3 separate regions of the Homo sapiens genome follow, and regions 2 and 3 are each linked to region 1. Evidence: fine-mapped expression QTL. A gene starts in region 1. Each other region holds a variant in brackets. All regions are shown on one strand. Distances are between the middles of the regions. Region 1 holds the start of HEBP1 (heme binding protein 1). Region 2 has its middle 12 kb from the start of FAM234B. Region 3 overlaps GPRC5D-AS1 (GPRC5D and HEBP1 antisense RNA 1).

Region 1 (7,979 bases):
TCATGTCTACCACTTTTTGGTGGGTAGGGGTGGGAGTCAGGGGACAGAACTGCTTTGGCACAGAGTTGATTTAAGATACAGAGAACAGGCTGGGCACAGTGGCTCACACCTGTAATCTCAGCACTTTGGGAGTCCAAGGCAGGTGGATCAACTGAGATCAGGAGTTTGAGACCAGCCTGGCCAACATGGTGAAACTCCTTCTCTACTAAAAATACGAAAATTAGCCAGGTGTGGTGGCAGGTGCCTGTAATCTCAGCTACTTGGGAGGCAGAGGCAGGAGAATTGCTTAAACCCAGGAGGCAGAGGTTGCAGTGAGCCGAGATCGCACCACTGCACTCCAGCCTGGGAGACAGGATGGGTGAGACACTGCCTCAAAATAAAAAATAAAAATAAATACAGAGAACAAATTTCTAGAAGGAACAGACTGGTGTTCTGGAGCATTTCCCAGGAGTGGTCCAGGTGACCTCCACTTCACACAATTTGGTTTAACACAATGCTGCTCAACAAGAATGAACACGTTTATGCCCCCATCTCCAGAAGCATCACAACCTTTCATGGAAAACCCATTATTCCCACACTATTTCCATATAACATACAGTTATGGACCATCCCATGGGATGGTCCATGGCCCCACTGCACCCTTGTGAAAAATGAGAGTCAAAAACATGCCAATAATCATGTTAATGACAATACAGGTGGGTACCACTCGCACTTCACTGAGATAAAAATCCTCATGGAAGGCATCCCCCTCACGTCTCAGGACCCTTCAGAGCACAAGAAAAAGCTTTGTTCAGGTTGTATGCTGCTCTCCATCCTGAGACCTGTTCCTGAGCCACACCATAACAATAAGTGAATTAACAAAGAAGTACATTTGTGGGGAAGTTACAGGGACCCTGCAGAAAAGCCAAACTATTTGACAGAAGCTTGAAACAAACACTGCTCTGGGAAATCATTTGTATTAGCTGATGACTGGGCTCTGTTTTCTAAAATGGACATGCAACATATTCGATACTATGCTTACCACAGTTTGCTTGGTAAACCCTTCTGTCATACAACAAAATACATTCTTTCTCATGAATGATTGCTGAATATTCACCACGAGACCTAGACTCGGAAGCATGGAAAGTGTGCATTGGAACTTTCTCCCACTTGCATGGATTTGGACATGTGCTAAGAACCTGAAACTGCTTCCTTTCTGGAACTCAATTCTGTCAGTGTGCTTACTGCTGAGATGATCTGCTATCTTAAACTGAGAACACACAATAACACTGATCCACAGAAAAAAGGAGAGGTCACCATCTCCCTCATAAGATATGTTGTACATCAGGTCATGCTGTTTGTCACGTTTTAGCCATCCTAAGAAAGGACAGAAGCTGCATTCCATTCTGCAGTCTTGGCAAATGACTTTCTTCTGTTTCCACCTCTATTTTGCCTTGTTTATTTCATCTCCATTATCCCTCTTTCAGTCATGAATCATGACTTTTTTTTCTACAGTAGTCAGAGTTTTGTAGGACAAACTCAGGTCTCTCTGGCCTCTCAGCAAGCTTCAGGGCTTCATGCATGCCTGCAGCTGAGAGTGTCTGGTTGATATTCTGGTACTGGCACTGGAGCCGGCTGCAATAGGTGGTCCTCAGGTCCCAGTTGAAGAAGGCATAAATAAAAGGGTTAATGAGAGAGTTTGCATAGCCCAGCCATGGAAATATCCTCTCCACCCACAGTGGGATGCAGCTGCAGGCAGTGCCATAGACAGAAGGGTCTGGCTGTCAGGAGGAAAAAGGGCGGCCAGCACATGGTGGAGGCCCAGACGATGATCCCCAAGGTAGTCGCTGCTTTCTGTTTCCGCTTAAAGATGGAGATATTTTTTCCTTTCATGCTTGAGGAGTCTCGAAAGGTTTGCACACTCTTCCACCTCCTGGAACTTCACTGTGCCATTCAGGGTGACTACTGCTGTCTGGCTCCACTCGAGGGAAGCCAGGTAACCTGTGTTAGGCCGCGCTTTTCCTGGCGGCCTTGTAAATCTGTTAGTACATGAAAAGCATGACGCACATGGGGATTAGGATGCCACTGCGGTGGAGTAAATCGTGTAGCCAAAGTCTTGACTGACCAAGCACACCTTATCATCGTTTACATTCTGAGCCCGACCAAAAATGGTAGGTAAAGTGACAAAGGCGGAAAGAAGGCAGACAGAAAGAATCATCTTCGTCATGCATTTCCCCTTCTGCCTCATAGGGTACGTGAGAGGCTTCATGATCCCAAGGTACCTGTCGATGCTGATCACGTACAAGGTCAAGATCCAGGCCGTGCAGCACATGACATTCATGGAGAAGACGTTACAGAAAAAGTGTCCAAAGATCCACTTGCCCCCGATGAGGTCGGTGACACTGATGAAGGGCATGACCGCCATGGCCACCGAGAGGTTGGCCAGCGCCATGGACACGATCAGGTAGTTGGAGGGCTGGCGGAGCTTCTTGACGAAGCACACGGAGATACCACCAGGCAGTTGCCCGCGATCGCAGAGAGATGAGCGTCAGGACAGAGCCGATCACAACTTTCTCGGCCCTTTCTTGATTTGCTCCCCGCGGCCGGAGGCATTGCCCGGGGTTGCGTCCCAGGTGGGCGCCGGGCTGGCCGTCACCTCGGGGGCCCCCGCTCAGCAGATGCGGCGTCCCGGAGACCGCGACCGGTTCGGCGCCACCGTCGGGGCTCAGGTCGGGCAGCCTGCCCCCCACCTCCGGCAGGAGGAAAGAGCAGAGGCGCCCGTAGAGGTCCGGGTGGCCGCTGCTGTTAACATCCATCACTGCGCCGCCGTGTGGCGCTGCCCAAGAAGCCGCCCCACCCCCCTCCCCACCCCCGCGGCCGCCACAGGCTCCGGCTTTCGGCCCCGGGGCTTCAACTCGCCGGTTCCCCTCCGCCCGGCCCAGCTTGAGGCCTGCACCGGCCGCTGGGCAGCGCCAGGCTCGGCCTCGGGGCCCCGCCTGTCCCAGATCCCCGGCCGCTGCGTGAAACGCGAGAGCGCTGCCGAGCGGGGACTCCCTGAGGGAGGGACCTCGGACCCCGACGGACGCCCGGGACGCGCGGGCTCTCGGGCGCTCCGGCGGGGCTCGGCCCGCGGCTCCACAGCCCGCTGCACCCGCGCGGCTCGGAGCAATGGAGGATCAGGCAGCGGCAGAAGCTTCCGTTTCCTCCTTTTTAAATGGCTCCAAAATATTTCTTGTCGGTGGTGTGGAGTAGAGATTTATTGGTAAAATACTTGACAGAAAGCAGGCACTCAGCTGAGTAAATGGTGACAAAATTGGTGAGAAGATTTTTGAACAGGAGTGAACGAGAAAAGCCATGCTTAGAAAAGTCACCTGGAAACTGTGATTTAGAGGGATGGTAGGAAAGAGTGGCAGCAGGAAAGTGGTTTGGATGCTCTTTCAATGGTCTAGAAGAGGTCATGGGGCGGGGGTAGAGGGACAGCTACCAAGACAGGGAGCCTGGCCGCCGCTGTACCAGCGGGATCGAGCCTTCGGGTAGAGGACCGGAGAAGCGTGAGCAACCCGGGGCTCGGAGGTTGGAGCCCAGGCACCTGAGAGAGGACGTTCCCCACCACCGCTGCCTAAAGCCACTCCAGGCGAGAATCGCTTTCCAGGGCCCCAGCGGATAGGTTAGACTCAGAATAAGAGAAGGGGTCTGCGGAGGGGGACGGCCTGAGGCCCGCGGCCGGGTTCCCTCCCCAGACACCCGCGGAAAGCCCGAAAGGAGGCGGAACACGGCCCAGCGGCTCGCCACGGCGGGCCCATCCCTTGCTTAGCCGCCTCGCACCCTCGCCTCACCGCACTGCTGCACTGCTGCACTGCTGCCCTGCTGCCCGCCCTTCGCATCACTGACCCGCCCTCTCTCCGCCCCCTCGCCTCGCCGCCCCGCCCTCTCTCTCCGCCCCTTCACCTCGCCGTCCCGCCCCCTTGCCTCACCGCCGGGCTGAATTGCCGCCCCGCCCTCTAGCCACGCCCTCTGGCCCCTGCCTCTAGCCCCGCCTCTCGCCTCGCCGCCTCGCCGTCCCGCCGCCTTGCCGCCCTGCCACCCTGCCGCCCTGCCGCCCTGCCGCCCTGCCGCCCTGCCGCCGGTGGTCGCTGCCCGTGGTGCTCCGTCGCCCCCGCCACCTCACGTCCTCCCGTGCGTCGGGAGCGTCTCGGCTACAACATGTTGGGCATGATCAAGAACTCGCTGTTCGGAAGCGTAGAGACGTGGCCTTGGCAGGTCCTAAGCAAAGGGGACAAGGTAGGCCCGCAGGGCTGCCGAGGACCTGAAGGATTGCTGCCTCCCACCCCCACCCTCGTCGGGGCTGCAGCGGGTGCTGAGGGGCAGGTGGGGCAGGAATGTGCTATCGAAGGTGCGTTCTGGTGTCTGTCGCGAGTGCGGCTCTCCACCGCCCAGCATTTGGACTGGGAAGGAAAGGAGTGAGAGGTCCCCCTGCAGCCGGTGGTGAGAGGAGGGGGGTAAACAGGAGAGACTGATCCAAGGAGAGAATCCCAACTTGGGGAGTTGGGCACTGCCTGTTGAATGCATTCTTTCGTTTAAAATATTCCAAACATTCCGAACAGTTTGATTTGTTGAGAGACACTCGGTTGCAGAAATGAGTGTCGCAAGAAACTCCCAAGTACTAGAGAACTGCGGATAGTAGCCCCCTTTATCCGCGATTTCAGTTACCTGTGGTCAGCTCTTGTCCATAACTATTAAATGGAAAATTCCAGAAATACAGAAGTCCTAAGTTTTAAGTTTCCGGCCATTCTGCGTAGCAGGATGAAATCTTGATTCCTGGGACCGGAATGCCCCTTTGTCCAAGGTCAGCCTCCTATCTCTAGTAGCCGCCCTTAGTCACTTAGTAGCTAGCTTGGTGATCGGATCGACCGTGGCGGTATTGAAGTAACCCTTATTTTACTTAGTAATGGCCCCAAAGTGCAAGCTTAGCAATGCTGGCATATTGTTATAATTGCTGTTATTTTATTATTGTTGTTCATCTCTTACTGTGCCTAATTGATAAAGTTAAACTATATCATAGGTATGTATGTATAGGAAAAAACGTAGTAGATACAGGGTTCAGTTTTGTCCACCGTTTCAGGTATCCACTGGGGGGCTTGGAAGGTATCTACTATAGATAAGGGGGACTACTGTGTAAAAGAACAAGATCTGTGCAGAATAGATATAAATGCGCTACGCAGGGAGCACAGAGGCAGTCAATTCTGCCAGGGGGCTATGATGGGGACCTCAGTGGAGTGTCCTGAGCTGGGGCCTCAGGGATGTGTAGGAGTGCACACAACAGAGAAGAGCATGCACAAAGGCCCAGAGCTGTACCATTGCTTTTGGCCAGTTAGATCCTCTGGAGTTGGGTACCTAGAATACAGAATGAGTGAGAAGAGCATAATTGCTGTCTTCCCCCAAATTTATATCAGTGCTAACATGGGCTAACTGGACTGCACCCCTGAAAACAAGGAGAGTGCTGCTAGATTATAATCTCCTGGTGGACAGGTAGTTTAAACAGTGCAGCTGTATACAGAGCTCCCAATACGATGCCTCATTTGTGAAAGGACTGTATTGCCTGGGGGCCAAGTTCTGATACCTAGTACAATGATCTTCATATCACGAAAGCCCTCAATTAGACTCTAATCTGAACTCTTTGACAACCAAAGACCTTTCACCTGTTCTTATCTCCGTTTCCCCAGCTCTATGTAGAATGAACAGTTTAGCCCTGATCAGAGGTCCCACATTTGAATACCTGCAGCAACCAGGCAGGTAATGGAAATGGATGAAGCTGGCTGTTTTAGGCTATAAGGCATAGTGGGGACTGAGGCAAATCAGAGAGTGAACTCAGGTCCCCATCTCTAAACGGCAGTTCCAGCCACTTGTTGCTATGCAGTGATATATGAAACAGTGTTGCCAAATTCTTAAGGAAAACCATACATCCAGATTCTTAGCGAAATCACCCAATTTAAAAATAATTCGACAAAAACTGTTTTTTGAGTGCTATGTGCCAGGCACTCTTCTAGGCAATGGGATAAAAGATTAAAACCAGCAAAATTCTCTGCCCTCATGGAACTTATGTTTTATTGGCTAATGAACAAATAAAATGTATCATGGATCAGATAGTGATCAGTGCTGTGAAGAAAAGCAAGCAGGGGAGTGAGGAATAGGGAGTATTAGGAGTGAGGCTGTGATTTTGAGTAGGGAAACTGACATAGTTGTGCATAGGCTGGACACAAATGCAATAAGGATGCCAGTTATTAATATCAGTCCTGCTGTGAGCATCCAAAGGACCCACCCAAGCCAACACAGAGAGCTGTCTATCCGCCTCCCTGGGCAATGAAAAAGGCACCTGATAAGGTCTGCAGCATCACTGGCCTCCCCATCAAGTAGTTGCCCTACTCAGAACCACAGCCTTTCTCCTAACAGCCCTGATGAAGGTTCCTGTGATTCTAACACTTTAAGAATCCATGTGTTCTTGCTTTTGTCATGGAATGGGGCTCACTTTGTCTTTTTGGATTAATGATGATGGCCCACACAGGCGGAGAGGGGTCTGGGCTGGTTCGTGGCCTGTGCCCTCAGATTCCTTCCTCACCCATTCCCTGCTCTGCTGTCTTCCTGTGGAGTGGAAGCTGACCCATTCGGCCTGTTTCCCAGGCCAGATGTCAGCCGGCGCCCAGCTACGTTTGCTCAGTGGGAGTCTCTACTGGGAGATAAAAAGGGAGAAACCAGAGTATTTCTCCTCCTTCTCCACCCCATCAGATCCATACTACTAGGAGCTTCTCTGTGGCTTTGGCTTCCGCTACACAGGCCACCATGATTCTAGCTTCTACCCAGTAACCTAGGTATCTGAACTTAGGTAACAGGTAATTCTCCCTCTGTGTCTCCTAGGGTGCTTACTAACCTCTAGGTTGCCTCTCTGTCCCCTGCTGGCATCTCAGCCCCTCTGTTATCTGTGCAACCAATCCCTTGCATCGAAGTGCTTCTGCTCTAAATACTCTAGTAGTTTCTGTTTCCTGTTTGACTCTTATTGATACAGTGTCACTTGCCGTTAATTTGGGGCCTCTGGGATAAGGAGAACTCCCTAATAAGCATCTTCTCTCAGTGTTTGATGGGAATATGGGGCCATATGGGATATTGGTACCAGGCTAAAGCAAATCATTTAACCCAAATGAACCTGTTTCTACAGCTATAAAATGAGTATAAAAATATCTTTTCCATCTATTTCCAGAGTTACTATAAGTATTAAATTCTTTAAAACCATGAAAACATTTTGTAAAGTAGTATACATACCCTACAAATATAGTAATAGCATTATATCAGTGCTCATCTCAGCTTCATTCTTTCTAGCTGTGTGGTCACAGGCCAACTTAGCCCCTCTGAAGCTAATTGTGGAAGAAAATAATAGTTCATATATTAATAGATTGTTTTGAAGTTCAAATGAGATAACCAATTATAAAACTGTTCAATGTTAGTACTTGGTTGGAGATGGTAATGGTTAGCTTTACTGTAGTTTTACAGTAAAGTTTGGGTAAATTACTTAACATCCCGTGAGCCCTTGAATTCCTCAACTCTAAGATGAGAATAACAATGCCAATGTGAAATTAATTAATTATGCATAGATACTTGTAAACCTTTTTTTTTTTAAATATACAAACATAAAGGTATTATTTTTGAAGAGAACCTCTCCCTGAAATTATATTTTATCCTGGAAACAGCCTGGGTCAGAAACTATTGTCCACTCTCCTGGGCAAATGATGGCATACCATATTCCCCACATAGCATGGGCTTCAGGCTCACCAGATGTTGGGGACTGATTCCAAGTACTTGGCAGGGAGGCCAGTGCTGCCGCAGACCTTATCAGGTGCCTTCTTAATTGCTCAGGGAGGGAGGAGGGTAGACAGCTCTCTGTGTTGGATTGGGTGGGCCTTTGGATGCTCACAGCAGAACTGATATTAGTAACTGACATCCTTAATCAG
Region 2 (7,979 bases), 33 kb before region 1:
ATGGGTAGAAGTTGTTCACGTAAAGGCTGAAGAACAGGACGTGTAAAGGTCGAGTCAGAAAAAAGCTTGATTCAGCCGGGCACGGTGGCTCACGCCTGTAATCCCAGCACTTTGGAAGGCCGAAGCGGGTGGATCACTTGAGATCAGGAGTTCGAGACCAGCCTGGCCAACATAGTGAAACCCTGTGCCTACTAAAAATACAAAAAATTAGCCAGGCGTGGTGGCACATGCCTGTAATCCCAGCTACTCGGGAGGCTAAGGCGCAAGAATTGCTTGAACCTGGGAGGCGGAGGTTGCAGTGAGCCAAGACTCCACCACTGCACTCCAGCCTGGGTGACAGAGACTCCATCTCAAAAAAAAAAAAGAAAGAAAGACAAAAGCTTCGTCCTATGGAGGAAACCAGTGTGCCTGAGAATAGTTTCAATGTGAGAAGCAAGAGGCAGACAGGAACCTGATCATGCAGGTGCCTTGACACTGAAGGACTTTAATTAGCAAAGTTGATGTGATCCAACTGGCTGCTATGCAGGGAATAAACTGGAGGAGAACAAGAATGGAGAGAGGAAGACCAGATAGTTACAAGCAAAAGGTCCTGGTGGTGGATTCAGTTACTCATGCTTTGTCTCCCAGACACAACGTGTGCACAAATTCTCACTTTTCACCTGCTTTCCTGTTCTGGCAAGAAAGAAAATATGGGTACTGTTTATTTTTCTCTTATTATACAAACTATTAAGACTAACAGAACTCCTGTTTCTACTCCTGCGAGCCTGACTGCAAATGAGACAGTCACCCATACCCACCCTGACACATTCCTGCCACCCCAACAGCTTGTCTTCCTGCAGCCTCCATCAGCTTTCACCTGGGGACTGAACCAAATCATATAGACACTGAGGTTCCCTGGCTCTCTTCTCCCCTGAGAGATGCCAGGGCTATCTAGAACCATTGCGTTAGGTGACAGCCCAATACATAATATATGGAAATAAACTCCCTCTAAATTGAGCTATCATGAAGGGAAGGTAAACAGCCATCAGTTGAGATATACTATATAAAAGTAAATTATCAGTCAGCTGTGGTGGCTGACACCTATAATCCCAGCACTCTGAGAGGCTGAGATGGGAGGATCACTTGAGGCCAGAAGTTCAAGACCAGCCTGGAAAACATAGGGAGATTTCCCACTCTACAAAAAATTTAAAAATTAGCTGGGCGTGGTAGTACACACCTGTAGCCCCAGGCTGAGGCAGGAGAATTGATTGAGCCCAGGAGGTCAAGGCTGCAGTGAGCCATGATTGCACCACTGCACTCCAGCCTGGGCAATAGAGCAAGAACCTGTCTCAAAATAAATAATAAATAAATAGGCCAGGCACGATGGCTCACGCCTATAATCCCAGAACTTTGGGAGGCCGAGGCAGGTGGATCATTTGAGGTCAGGAGTTGGATACCAGCCTGGCCAACGTGGTGAAACCCTGTCTCTACTAAAAATACAAAAATTAACTGGGCATGATGGTGGCATCTGTAATCCCAGCTACTTGGGAGGCTGAGATAGGAGAATTGCTTGAGTACAGGAGGTGAAAGTTGCAGTGAGCCAAGATCACGCCACTGCGCTCCAGCCTGGGTGACAGAGCAAGAATCCGTCTCAAAAAATAATAAATAAATAAATATAAAAATAAATTATCCCTAACACACAATCATGCTAAATACTATCCATAGTCTCACTCCTACAGAGTTAACACTTTCAGCTTTCTTTATTTGAAGCACATTGTTTAATGTAATTTTATGAATGACCTAAGAATTACTTCTTTTTTTTTTTTTTTTTTTTTTGAGACAAAGTCTTGCTGTGTCACCCAGGCTGGAGTGCAGTGGCGCAATCTCGGCTCACTGCAAGCTCCACCTTCCAGGTTCACGCCATTCTCCTGCCTCAGCCTCCCAAGTAGCTGGGACTACAGGCGCCCGCCACCACACCCAGCTAATTTTTTGTATTTTTAGTAGAAACAGGATTTCACTGTGTTAGCCAGCATGGTCTCGATCGCCTGACCTTGTGATCCGTCTGCCTAGGCCTCCGAAAATCCTGAGATTACAGGCGTGAGCCATCGCGCCCAGCCAAAAAATACTTCTTAAGTATTTTTCATTATAATCTTGCCTCCAAGATAATCTAATAAAACCTGATCATCTTTAACTTCTGGCAGCTTTCTGGGTTTGGAAGCAAGCATGGTTTGTCAACCTGGGGTTTGATGTGAGGCTTAATTTCTCTCTAGGATGACATTTGAGGGTTTTTGTATTTGTTTTGTTTTGGTTGTTGTTGTTTTTTGTTTTTGAGATGGGGTTTAATTTTGTTGCCCAGGCTGGAGTGCAGTGGCACGATCACAGCTCACTGCAGCCTCAACCTGCTTGGCTCAAGCAATTCTCCTGCCTCAGCCTCCCAAGTAGCTGGGACTATAAGTGTGAGCCACCATGCCTGGCCCAGTTGAGGTTCTGAGAGGAATAATCACAATGGCAGAGCTAAAAATGTGCATGTAACCACAAACTAGAGAGAGTTGTGAGACAAATAAATCTACTGTTACCTTTGCCACCGCAAATAGTTTTATTTCTTCTTTTATGTTTTATTCCTTCCAAGAGTTTATCTTTAAGGAACTAAAGGCTCTGGAACTTTTCAAGGACCTCTGTATGAAAAGCTACCTTTTACTTGTCCAGTTCATAAAATCTCACTCACTTCTATTTCTTCTTTCTTACCATAAATATTCTCCTTTTATATTTTAGTCTTCAAGATCTGGGAATTTTATTCTTTAATCAAATGATTAATTTTTGGTCTCTTACCCCAGCCTTAATGACCAAAGGAGGATTGTTTAGATTTTTCTGAAAGGTATTTCCTAACACAAATCATTTTCTTTCTTTCTCTGACTCAATTTTTAAAACCCTAGTTTTATTCTTCTCCTGAGAGATTTTGCATGAAGCTAATCTTTTTTCCACTTCTGCAATCTTAAAGAACAACACTGGTCTGATTTGAAAAGATATTTTGTGATAAATTTTTCCTCATCATTTTTTAGGGGAATACTTATTCCCCAACCCTCAGATTCCCATGTGGAACGGTTTTCACTAGAGTATCTTGTGAGTCTCCTGACTAGTGTTCAAAGGAAGGAAGCAGGTCATGCTTAGCATAGCTGCTTCCCCTTGAGACTCATTCACTGATTCATTTTTAAAATTACTTATCCAGGCTGAATGCAGTGGCTTATGCCTGTAATCCCAGCACTTTGGGAGGCCAAGGCAGGCAGATCACTTGAGCCAGGAGTTTGAGACCAGCCTGGCCAACGTGGTGAAACCCCATCCCGACTAAAAATACAAAAATTAGTCAGGCATGGTGGCGCGCCTGTAATCCCAGCTATTCAGGAGGCTGAAGCAGAAGAATCGGTCAAAGCCGGGAGGCAGAGGTTGTAGTAAGCACCACTGCACTCCAGCCTGGGCAACAGAGTGAGTGACACTCCATCTCTAAAATAAAATAATATAATATAAAAAATAAAATTATTTATTCAACAAATATTTGAGCAGTCATTACTGAAAGGCCCTATTCTAGATGCTGGGGATGTCAGACCAGACAAAACAGACAAAAGTCCTTGTCCACATCATGTATGTTTGTGGGAACTATGAGGTCAAGCAGAGAAGAGAAATAGTTAAGTAAAATATATGCTGTGTCAGATGGTGATAAGTATTACAGAAAAATAGAATAGAGAAGGGGAGATGCAATGTGGAAGTCGCAGGGAGTGGTGGGCAGATGTCCAATTTTAAATAGGATGGTTAGGGAAGGCTTCAGTAAGAGGATGATATTGGAAGAAAGATCTAATAGAGGCATCATGAATAAAAAGAACTTGGAGGCAGAAGCATACCTGTCCTGTTCGAAGACCAGCAAAAAGGCTGCCAGAAAGGATAGTTTTTCTTCTTTTTTTTTTTTTCTTTTTTTTTCTGAGACAGAGTCTTGCTCTGTTTTCCCATGCTGGAGTGTGGTGGTGCTGTCTCCGCTCACTGCAACCTCCAACTACCAGGCTCAAGCGATTCTCCTGCCTCAGTCTCCCGAGTCACTGGGATTACAGACACCTGCCACCACACCTGGCTAATTTTTGTATTTTTGTATTTTTAGTAGAGATGAGGTTTCACCACGTTGGCCTGGCTGGTCTCAAACTTCTGGCCTCAAGTGATCCACCCGCCTCGGCCTCCCGAAGTGCTGGGATTACAGGTGGGAGCCACCGCGCCCAGCCAGGAAAGGATGGTTCTAGGGAGAGATTAGAGATTAGATGAGGTCAGATATGGCCAGAGTAGGAACAGATTCTGTAGACTTGGTAGGGAAAATAAAGACTTTGGCTTTTAGTCTAGATTAAATAGAGAGACTTTGAAAGCCTTGAGGCACAGAAGTGTTTATTTGACTTAGATTTTAAAAGTGTTCCTTGAGATCACTTTGCTGTTCTGAGAACAGACTGTGGGGGTACTGGCAGTGATGAATCACTTTTGACTATTACAATGACCCAAGCCAGAACTGATGGTGGTTTAGACTAGGGTAGTTTCTTTGAGGGTGGGGGGAAGTGGTAGGATTCTTAACTTAATTTGAAGGTAGAGCCGGCAGGATTTGTTGAAGAACTGAATGTATGGCATGAGAGAAAAAGGTGTCAGGGACCGTAGTGAGTCTTTTGACCTAGCAACCAGAAGATTGGAGAAGGGGAAAACTGAGAGAGGAGTGGGATGGGAAGCAGACATCAGGGGTTGGTTTTGGATGTGTCAAATTCAACATCCAACTGGACATGCAAGTGGAAATGTTGACCAGGCAGTTGCATGTATGAGTCTTGGGAGTTCAGGGAGAAGTCCTAGGTGGAGATATAAATTTGGTAGTCATTTGGTAGATT[C/T]GATAGTAAATTTGGTAGCTAATGCACATAACCCATATTTAAAGTTGGGAAATGGAATAAGATCACAGAAAGCATGTGTGATGCAGGAGGGGAGGGGAGCGTGAACGCTGCAGCATTTCACCATTCACAGTTCAGGGAGAAGAGGAGGAACCAGCCAGAGAAAGCAGCAGGCATAGCCAGTACGGTCAGAGGATAACCAGGAGAGTTTGTTGTCCCTGAAACCAAGCAAAAAAAGTGTTTTTGGGAAAAGCATAGTCAATTATTTTAAATGCCACAGAGAGATCAAGGAAGAAAAGGCTAAAGAGTAACGTGCCTGCCTACAGAGAGCACACACTTTGTTCTACTCTGCTGTGGTTTAAGGGCCTGCAGTTGTCCTGCTGTGCTAGCCTGGGTACACCTCTCTAATTCAAAGAAAGAATTTGCAAGCCCCTTTTACAACAGATCTAAGCCATGTCATTCAGCGTAGCTTTCTTTCAATAGTGAAGCTGATATTTTATCTCCATCTGTCCATCTCTTCAGTCTATTCCCAGATCAATCAGAGCTATGCAGAGAAGATGGGTATTAATTTACTGAGTCCCCTGAACCTTCAGTAATCATAAGTATTCCTTTTATTTATCTCTGCTTAGTAGATGTGAAGTTTTGTTCTCTTATATAGTAGATTTTCCCAGTAGTATTATCTTATCTACTTCTTGCTCTACCTTAGAGATTCTCTCTAAGGCAACTTTCTTCTTCTCTAGTCAAGCTTTTAACATCTATTATGAGAGTCTTTGCAGATGTCCCTACGTAGGATTGGAGAGAGGCCCTAATCCATCCCTGTAGTGACTCTTTCTCCTTCTGGGAAGCAGATGGGATTAACAGACCATTACTAATTATTGTTCTTAAACAAGGCACTGCAAGATTTATAAACCTCTTCCCAAAAGCCAGGCTGCACATCTGACACAAAGAGGAAAACGTCGCCTTTTTTTTTTTGTTTAACAACTTCACCATGAGGAGTCCCTCTTTGCTGAGAAATTGTGCTTTGTATTTTTTCCTGTTTCTAAGAGGACAGGCATACACTTGTCCTTCGGTGAACCAAATGAAGTAGAGGATAAGATGTGATATCTCTGTAAGCCCACAGGATCTGCTTTGAACAAAGTAATATATTTGAAGTGAAAAGCAATCCTTCTTGAAATAGTCACGAGCTCGTGCCTGCAGACACTTAATTGCAAGGGGTTGGCAACCTGTCTTTCATCCATGTCCTGATGAACAAAGACACACCCCATGTGGGCCAAAGACCACCGGAAACTTCAAAAAGTCCTCTTCAGGCAGAGGACAGGAGCCACGAGGGTCATACCTGGTACTGTATGATGAGGATAAAGGTGATAAGAAATTCTCTAATGGCCTCTGTCCCTTCGTGTCTGAAATTTCTATCTCAAGATCAAAAGAACCAAGGTACAGCCTAGGTAAGAAAGGGCTCTTGTCCTAATTTTGGAAGAGCCTAAAAATGAAACCCAGGAGAATTTCTTAGAGAGATGATATTGCCTGGAGTTACCTTTCCATGAAATTAGACATTTCATTTTCATTCTTTCTTTTACCCTGGAGTTAAAGACTTGTTTGGTTTTTTTTGGGTCTTTGTTTTCCCTTGTCAATACCTTAAAGATTTTTAAGTAGGATTCTTAGAGAGATTCACGTGAAGCTATTTTCTTATTACCATCACAAATACTTTATTTTCATCCTACCCTCCATCACCCTCTGCCTCAAAAATCTCAGATTTTATTCTTTTATTCAGGAGATTGTGCATAAAGTTACTTATTTCAATGAAAAAAAATATTTATTTCTGTATTTCTTTTTACGTCTTGGCCTGAAAATCATGAAACTCTGTTGTCTTATTCCAGAGATTTTATTTACCTAAAGCTACTCCCTCCTTCACTAATAGAGGTTGTAAGACAAATAGGTTTCTCATAAAGAACTTTCATGTGACCCAAACTTTTTCTTTAAGACTACGAATTTTTTTTCTCAGCCGTAAAAACTTACAATTGAGTTTTCTTATTGAGAAAATCTGTACACATCTTTTCTCTTTCACCTTGAAACGGGGGCTAAAATATTAGACACTGAAGAATTGTATTACCCTTTAGTTTCCTAGTACATAATTCTTTCCAAGTAGAATAACAATTTAACTTTCAATCTGTCTTCCATTACATTATTACTCAGGTTTTAAAATATTCATCTCATTGGTGATCTATCATCTCTCCCAGTTTCTGGTACTTGAAAAACTACATGTTCTTCAGTTTTAATTTAAGTGAAGAAATGAAGGAGAAAATTTGGTAAACATTTAGTTTAAGATGGAATAAGAAACAAAAATCTTCTTTACTCCTAAATACAATGTATTTGCCAGAGGTATTGTTCACCTACCAACTTTAATTTCATGCCTTCTCAGTAAATCCAGAATGACAATTTCAGAGTGAAGAGCAAGCAGTACAGCCCTCACACAAAAGGGGCCCTAATTCTGAGCATTATGCCTCAGAGAATGCCACGCTATGGGGTGTCTTCCTTGAAATCTAAGTCCCCTCCAGTGGCTGCAATGCCAATTGACTGAAGCATGCCCCTGGTATTCCCTGTTTCTCTCCTTGGGGAACCTGCCCCAACCACATGCTGGTGAATTTAGCTATGCATTTGAAACCAAACTGTTTCTATTGATGAGGCTCTGCTAGAAACACTTCCCCAGGTCTTCCCCCATCCCTACCATCTTCCCACCCCAAATAGCCACCCCACCTCACCCCTACCCAGGTCCCATTTCAGCCCTGCTGAAGGAGATTTGTGTGTGTGTGGTTGTTTCTTTTAATAACATTTGATCTCAATGTTGGAACGGATCTCAGAGGTCTGCAAATCTAATCCCCAACGAGTAGCAACTGCTTCTTTAATCCTCAGTCATGTTATCTCTGCTGGGACATTCTCAGCTCCCCAGAGCTCAGGGCACGTGGCAGATAGCCACTGTTGTAGGGCTTGGAGACTACACCTGTGACTGCCTCCCAGGAGAACTGATGCTGTCTTCTGAAGCCAGAGGGAGCAAGGCCAAATCCCTGCTCCATACATCAACCCTGAAAATGCCTGAAATATTGA
Region 3 (7,979 bases), 37 kb after region 1:
CTCACTGCAACCTCCGCCTCCTGGGTTCAAGTTAATCTCATGATTCTCGTGTCTCAGCCTCCCGAGTAGCTGGGATTACAGGCACGTGTGCCACCATACCTGGCTAATTTTTGTATTTTTAGTAGAGACGCGGCTTTACCGTGTTGGCCAGGCTGGTCTCGAACTCCTGGCATCAAGCAATCTGCCCGATTAGGCCCCCAAAATGCTGGGATTACAGGCGTCAGCCATTGCTCCTGACCTAAAATAAACATAACAAAAGTTGTAAAAGTGCCATTTGTAAGGGCTTCTAAGGAATGGATAAGATCCACCCTCTTTTTGGGGTCTTTTTCTAGTAGGAAGAGAGATAGGGTCAGGGAAATATTAATTTCTTCTTCAAGTTACACATACTTCACAGTGCATAAATCTCAACTGTTTAATTTACCAGCCCCAATTAGACGTGGTTTTCTTGAGTGCTGATATTTAGTATTATTTATTTTTGTAGCCTCAGTTCCCAGCTGTGTACCAGTATATAGTGAAAGCTTGGTGTATGATTGTGGGATGGATAAATGAATGAATGTGTTTCCCAATTCATGAAATTGCTGAAAGAAAGGTGAGGAATGAGGATGGAGAGGGGTGTCCTGACTGTGGCACCAGCCTGGTACCTGCTTAGGATGCCAACAGGAAGTTGGCACATGAAGAAAAGTACAAAAATGCAGAAATAAATCCAGATGTTCAAGATGCATATATCCAGTGACCTACTTGACATATTCATACAAGGAATTTGCAGATACCTCAAACAGCACGTCCAAAACTGAACTCTCACTGCACACTTTTCCACCCTCCTTTTCATGCCTCCATCTTCCCCATATCTCTAAATAACACTACCATTCAACTACGTGCTCAGATCAAAACACAAAATCACCCTGAATAGACAGACATCTTCCTTGTTAGCTGGACGGCCCTCAGGCATCATCTTTCTCCCCTATGTGACTATCATCTGAGCTCAGAATATTCCTCTGGGCAACAGTGTCATCCCCCTCCTTGGGAACCTCACATTTGCACTTGATCAGGCAGCCAGCTGTTTCCTGTCTCCCCCTAACTTCTCTTACGTAAAGTGGAGGGATGGGTGGGAAAGAGTGGGGATGTCTCCTGGAGCACAAACCTACAGTGCCTCTAGCCCTGCCTGGCCAGGAGTGAGAACTTGGAAGGCCACATGCATTTTGCTGACCCCTGCCTATAATTCCTCCCTATTAACCAGGCTTTGGCCTGCACCTCGTTGTTTGTGGTGTTTGGCCCACCCTCTGGCTTAACACATTCATGATTCCCTCTCATGTTCATTCATTTCACATGTATTGAACCTCTCCTGTATGCCAAGCACTGTCCTAGGCAATTCCGTTTATAAGCGAACAAAACAAAGATCCTTACCCTTGTAGAGTAGGGTATATAGATAACAAATAATAGACATGTAAATTTTAATAGTATATTATATTATATCTTACAAAGTAGTAAGTGCAATGGCAAAATTTAAAAGTAGACCAAAGAGAATGGGCAGTGTTTGGGAGGTCAGTATGGAGGCGGTGGTGTGCAGTTCCTGCTGATGTGGCCAGGGAAGCCCTCCTGGAGAAGAAAGACTTGAAAATAGTGAGGGGTTGGCCAGACGCAACCTGAGGGAAGCCCATCCTAGGTGGCGCAAAGGCTGTCGGACAGGGCGGGCCTGTGTGGTCAAGGAACTTAGAGGTCGGAGGGGCTGAAACAGAGAGCCCAGGGGAAGCACAGAGAGGTGACAGGAGTGGGCAGGTCTGGTAAAGACCTAGAAGTCACTTCAGAGGCTTTGCCTTTTCTTCTGTATAAAATAGAGAAGGCCATTGTAGGATTTCAAGCAGAGCAGTGACAAAATCAAACCCACTGTTGCAAGAATCCCTCTGGCTGCTCTTTTGATCATATACTATAAAGGGGTCGGGGTTGGGGCTGGGGGATGAGGTCAGAAGCAGACGGCCGGTTAGGAGTTTCCTGCAGTCAAGCAGAGAAGAGATGATGGTCACTTGGACTTGGATGGTGTCACTGAAGTAGTGAGAAGTGGTCAGAGTCCGTGGTATTTTGAAGGTAGACCCAAAAGGATTTCCTGGTGGACTGTACATGAAAGAAAGAGAGGACTCAAGATGACACCAAGATTCTTGGTTTGAGCAGCTAGAAGAATGGCTTTGCTACTAACTGAGATGCAAAAAATCTGGGCTGGTGGAGCAGATCTAGGGTTCCAGGAGCCATTCTTCATTCTCTGTCTCCCAACCACGAGCAAGACAGAGATTCCACCTCCAAAGTGTCTCTTGAATCTTATTGTCTCTCTCCATCACTCCACCCAACCCTGGTGGACTAATAACCACCATCATGCCTCACCCGGACTCTTGAGATGGTCTCCTGCTTCCTACCCTGGTCTTTTCTAATCCGTTCTCAATGCCTGGTGTTCCATCGTGCATTAGACAGTCTGAAGCAGATTGATCTTTATAGTAGAAGCTGTCACTTTCTTGCTTAACACCTTTTCACGGTTTCCTGTTGCATCAGACTCCTCTCCCTGGGACTCAAGCTCTCTGTATCATCTGATGCCCACTTCCTACTCCATGCTCATTCTTTGCTACTCCCCTCCTTGCTGCAGATACAGTGGATCTTTCTATTTCTCAAACACACCATGCTCTTTGGCATCTTAGGGCTCCTGCTTATCTTGCCCTCTCCACCTGGAATGCTCTTCCTCCCACTCTGCATGGGCACAGCTGGATCTTTCGTATCCTCTGGGTCTCTGCTTAAATGGTGCCTACTCAGGGAGGCCCTCCTCACCCAACCTGTCAGAGGGACCCTCACTCTATTATTCTCTACCACAACATCTTTTACAGCATTTTCACACTAGTGATTATATATGCACACGTTTTATTTTTCTGTTGGTTGCTCTCCCACCAAACTGTAAGCTCGTTGAGGCCAAGAACTGTGCATGCTTTGTTTACCACTATATCCACAGCATTAAGCACAATGAGCAGCTATGGATGCCCCTAAAAATGTGTTGCGTAAATGAATGAGTGAATATTAACTGTAATGCACTTTATAGCTTAAATACAATAAAGACAGTTACTCTCAGAATAACATTCATACTACCCCTCAAAACAGCCACACCCTCCCTGGATAATCTGGCTACAGGGCCTCCTCCTCCTCTCTCACCTATCCATCCTCCCACTACACTCACCCACTTGTTATTTGGGTAAGAGACTGTGGTCGTCCTTGCTGTGGACATTGTGCAGGCTGCTTCCTCCATCCAGAGCTCTCCTACACCTCACTTGACCTGACTTAGACATTTCTCCTGAAAGGTCTTCTCTGAACCTCGCGCCTATGAACCCACAGAATACGCTGAATGTCTAATGATGTTTTCATTACCTGCCTACCTTCCACCCCACCCAGTAGGTAAGCAACTTAAACACAGGTAGGGGGCCCTGAGTGTTGTTCACTGTAATATCTCAAGCACAAGCACAGCACTCAGCACAAAATAGATGCTCAAAAAAAGTCATTAAAAGAAAGAACAAGCAGATGAATGAACACTAACGATACATTTCTAGGGAGAGAGTCTAAGAGTAAATAAATGGGCTACATTAATATGTAGACTTAACACTTGAATTTAACATAATAATTTGCATGTTGACAATTACATATAAAAATCCTTTGAAATTGTTAGAATCCTGGCTGGGTGCAGTGACTCACGCCTGTAATCCCAGCAATTTGGGAGGCCCAGGCGGGTGGATCACTTGAGGTCAGGAGTTCGAGACCAGCCTGGCCAACATGGTAAAACCCCATCTCTACTAAATATACAAAAATTAGCCAAGTGTGGTGGCATGTGGCTGTAATCCCAGTTACTCAGGAGGCTGAGCCAAGAGAATTGCTTGAACCCAGGAGGCAGAGGTTGCAGTGAGCCGAGATCACGCCACTGCACTCCAGCCTGGGCAGCAGAGCAATGCTTCATCTCAAAATAAATAAATAAATAAAAACAATAAAATAAACTTGTTAGAATCCTTAAGTAAGTTGCACTCTTTCTTAACCTCAGATATGGTTTTTATCATCACTTTGCTTTCAAAACCCTTTAACTCAGCTCAGACCAAATTACCTGAAAACCATCATTGATGGTTTTCCTTTCTGTAAATATGCCACAGGGAAGAGGAAACATTTGTTTAAGTTCAGAAAATCAAGAAACTTGCCCAAGATCAGAGAGCAGGCATCCAAAATTAAGTCAGACTCCAAGCCAGTGCTCATTTGATGCGACTAGTATTTTCAAAAAAAAATTTTCTTTTTTTTTTTTGAGGTGGAGTTTCACTCCTGTTGCCCAGGCTGGAGTGCAATGGCGCAATCTCAGCTCACCACAACCTCCGCTTCCTAGGTTCAAGCGATTCTCCTGCCTCAGCCTCCTGAGTAGCTGGGATTATAGGCATGCGCTACCACACCCA[G/A]CTAATTTTTTATATTTTTAGTAGAGAGGGGGTTTCTTCTCCATGTTGGTCAGGCTGGTCCCGAACTCCCGACCTCAGGTGATCTGCCTGCCTCAGCCTCCCAAAGTGCTGGGATTACAGGCATGAGCCACCACGCCTGGCTTCAAAATTTTCTTTTACCCTAGTCCCCAGTCAGAAATAATTTTACATTCAACCCAGGACAAACACACACACACATACATACACATACCCCTCAAACGTTTCACAAAATAATATTTACCATTGCTACCAATGTAAAATAAAAGCAGAGCAAAGCTAATATCACATATTATTTTATTGATATTTATATAGATTATGAAAATCCAAAATAACACAAAACAGAAATGTAGACATGATTTTTATGTAGTGGACAGATATGCTAAAGCATTTATAAATTCATTCTGTGGACTACCTGAGGCAATAAGTACATCTGATACATTGTTCAACCTAGTTTTTTTCTTTTTAGAATCCAGTCAAAGTTGAAATCCTAAAAATTCACACAAATAGGCTGTAGCAATTGTTAACAATAGTAATACACCAGTTATGATAGTAGCACTGAAATTTTTCTTCAATCTTAACCCACATAATATACATGATGTCTTTAAATCATTCTTCAGTATAAGAATTAAATACAGGCCAGGCGTGGTGGGGCACACCTATGATCCCTGCACTTTGGAAGGCCGAGGCAGGTGATCACTTAAGCCCAGGAGTTCAAGACCAGCTTGGGCAACATGGCAACCCTCATCTCTACAAAAAATACATAAATTAGACAGGCATGGTCGTCCCAGCTACTTGGGAGGCTAAGGTGGGAGGATCACTTGAGCCTAGGAAGTCGAAGCTGCAGTGAACTGAGATCATGCCACTGCACTCCAGCCTGGATGACAAAATGAGACCCTGTCTCAAAAAAATAATAATAATAAATTTTAAAAAAGAATTAAATACAATCAGTTATTCTCTTCTTTGTTCACCAGGTTTAATTCAATTATTGATTCAGAGATTTGAAAAGAAAATAGACCTTTTATTGAAATGCTTTTCTTTCAAGCTTCATATTTTCTTCTGAAAAGTAATAATTGTGACTTTGAAAGAAAAATGAGATGTAGCAATATCTCGAATTTTATTTCTCAAACTGATTTTATAATGTTCTCTTCTATGTGTTGCAGCAATGTTGGGAACATACAGCAGCATAATTATGACCTTTATAAGGACAATTTTAAGACTTAGGAATGAACATCCCTTCATTGGAATGCTGGTGCCTCTGGGATTATTTGATCCTATAGGGATATGTGCCTTTGATTTTGACTAGGCTATTTTAAAACTCTGTAGAAATATAAGTCAACATATGGAAAACTGATAGCAATGTGAATAATTCTTGCATACAGACATAAACATAAATTCTGCTCAGTGGAGTTTCAATTGAAGAATTGGAACAAGAGGATTAATTTCCCAGATGGCTTTTCCATTCACGTGCCTGGTGCTTTGTCAAGGATAGCTAGCAGGCTGGGCTCAGCTGGTACTATTGACCAGAGAATCTATATGTGGTCCCTTATGTAGCTTGGGGTTTTCAGAACACAGCAGCTGTGTCCTAGGAAGAGCCTTTGGACCAAGTATTCCAAAAGATCAAAGCAGAAGCTGCAAGGCTAATTTTCACCTAGCCTTGGAATTCACGCATCCTCACTCCCACCACATTTTATTGGTTACAAGAGAGTCACTAAAGCCAGCCTAGATTCAAGTGGAGAGGAATTAGATAGACCCCACCTCTCGGTGGGAGGAATGTGTGATACTTACAGCCACCTTTTAAAATTGCTGCCTTTTAGATTCCTTAAATGTGTTTAACATTTTAAAATGTATCGTACAGCTGAGTGCAGTGGCTCGCACCTGTAATCCCAGCAATTTGGGAGGCCGAGGCGGAATGATTGCTTGATGCCAGGTGTTCAAGACCAGTCTGGCATAGTGAATTTCTGTCTTCACGAAAAATTTTTTAATTGTTTTTGTTTTTAAGACAGAGTCTTGCTCTGTCACCCAGGCTGGAGTGTAATGGCATGATCTTGGCTCGCTGCAACCTCTGACTCCTCCTGGGTTCAAGCAATTCTCGTGGCTCAGCCTCCTGAGCAGCTGGGATTACAGGTGTGCACCACCACACCCAGCTAATTTTTGTATTTTTAGTAGAGATGGTTTTGCCATGTTAGCCAGGCTGGTCTCGAATTCCTGGCCTCAAGAGATCCACCCACCTTGGCCTTCCAAAGCGCTGGGATTACAGGCATGAGCCACCACACCCAGTCTAAAATTTTTTTTTTGAGATGGAGTCTCGCTCTGTCCCAGGCTGGAGTGCAGTGGCGCGATCTTGGCTCCCAAGCAGCTGGGATTACAGGCACCTGCCACCACACCTGGCAAATTTTTGTATTTTTAGTAGAAATGGAGTTTCACCATGTTGGCCAGGCTGGTCTTGAACTCCTGACCTTGTGATCCATCAGCCTTGGCCTCCCAAAGTGCTGGGATTACAGGCATGAGCCACCATACCCAGCCAAAATTTTTTAATTAAAAAAAATATATTAGCTGAGCATGGTGGTGTGCACCTGTATTTCCAGTTATGCCTGAGCCCAGGAGTTTCAGGCTGCAGTGAGCTTTGATAGCAGCACTGAACTCCAGCCCAGGTGACAGAGCAAGACCCTTGTCTTAAAAAAAAAAAAAAAAAAAAAAAGGAAAATAATGCCCCCAAATCAGCTAAATGTGCACTTTTACTATCCAAATACCATGTTCAAAAATATTTGCCAGATGAGATAGTTTTTCAGTTTAACAAAATCTAAATCTTATTTTTGAGTATTTTTCCTCATGGTAACCAGGACTTTGACTACGTGTGGTAAGTGGATATGTCAGCTCCAATATCTGAACAAAATATTTCTACAAGTTTTGCCCACTGGCATCTCGATTTCAATAAATCCATGAAGTTCAGTTAAATTTCTTTAGGTGCCAAAGCCTTATGTTGAATAAACCAGGGCTGTTAGTAGTTTTTTAACAATATTTATTAATTCCGCCAGATTTTCTGGTTGTATTTGTTGTCCACACTCATAATTCCTTTACATTTTTTTCAGTTTAAGTAATATTCAACGTATGGCAATTCCTCAAAGAACTAAAAACAGAACTACCATTGGACCCAGCAATCCCATTACTGGCTATATACCCAAAGGAATACAAATCATTCTACCGTAAAGACACATGCACACGAATGTTCATTGCAGCACTCTTCACAACAGCAAACACATGGAATCAACTTAAATGCACGTCCATGACAGATTAGATAAAGAAAATGTGGGACATATACACCATGGAAGACTATGCAGCTATCAAATGAGATGAGAATCATGCCTTTTGGCGGAACATAGATGGAGCTGGAGGCCATTATTCTTAGCAAATTAACACAGGAACAGAAAACCAAATACCACAGATTCTCACTTACAATGCGGAGCTCAATGATAAGAGCTTCTGAACACGAAGAAGGGAACAACAGGC

What was found.
Region 2: its variant is fine-mapped to the expression of HEBP1 in whole blood (TOPMed, PIP above 0.99).
Region 3: its variant is fine-mapped to the expression of HEBP1 in whole blood (TOPMed, PIP above 0.99).

What each region holds. Positions count from the first base shown.
Region 1 is chr12:12,996,318-13,004,296 of GRCh38, reverse strand. HEBP1 (heme binding protein 1) reads left to right here and starts at 4,032. Exons shown (of 4, transcript NM_015987.5): 1 at 4,032-4,260. The coding sequence starts at 4,183. All of the region lies in intron 2 of GPRC5D-AS1 (GPRC5D and HEBP1 antisense RNA 1), which reads right to left. It also overlaps the pseudogene HTR7P1. RefSeq lists an enhancer at 1,968-2,513 and silencers at 2,938-3,087, 3,848-3,967, 4,018-4,167.
Region 2 is chr12:13,028,854-13,036,832 of GRCh38, reverse strand. No RefSeq gene overlaps it. Among named protein-coding and RNA genes, the nearest start is that of FAM234B, 12 kb to the left of the region's middle. The variant C/T (reference allele first, on the strand shown) is at 4,881.
Region 3 is chr12:12,959,018-12,966,996 of GRCh38, reverse strand. The region is part of intron 1 of GPRC5D-AS1 (GPRC5D and HEBP1 antisense RNA 1); the gene reads right to left. Among named protein-coding and RNA genes, the nearest start is that of GPRC5D, 11 kb to the right of the region's middle. The variant G/A (reference allele first, on the strand shown) is at 4,455.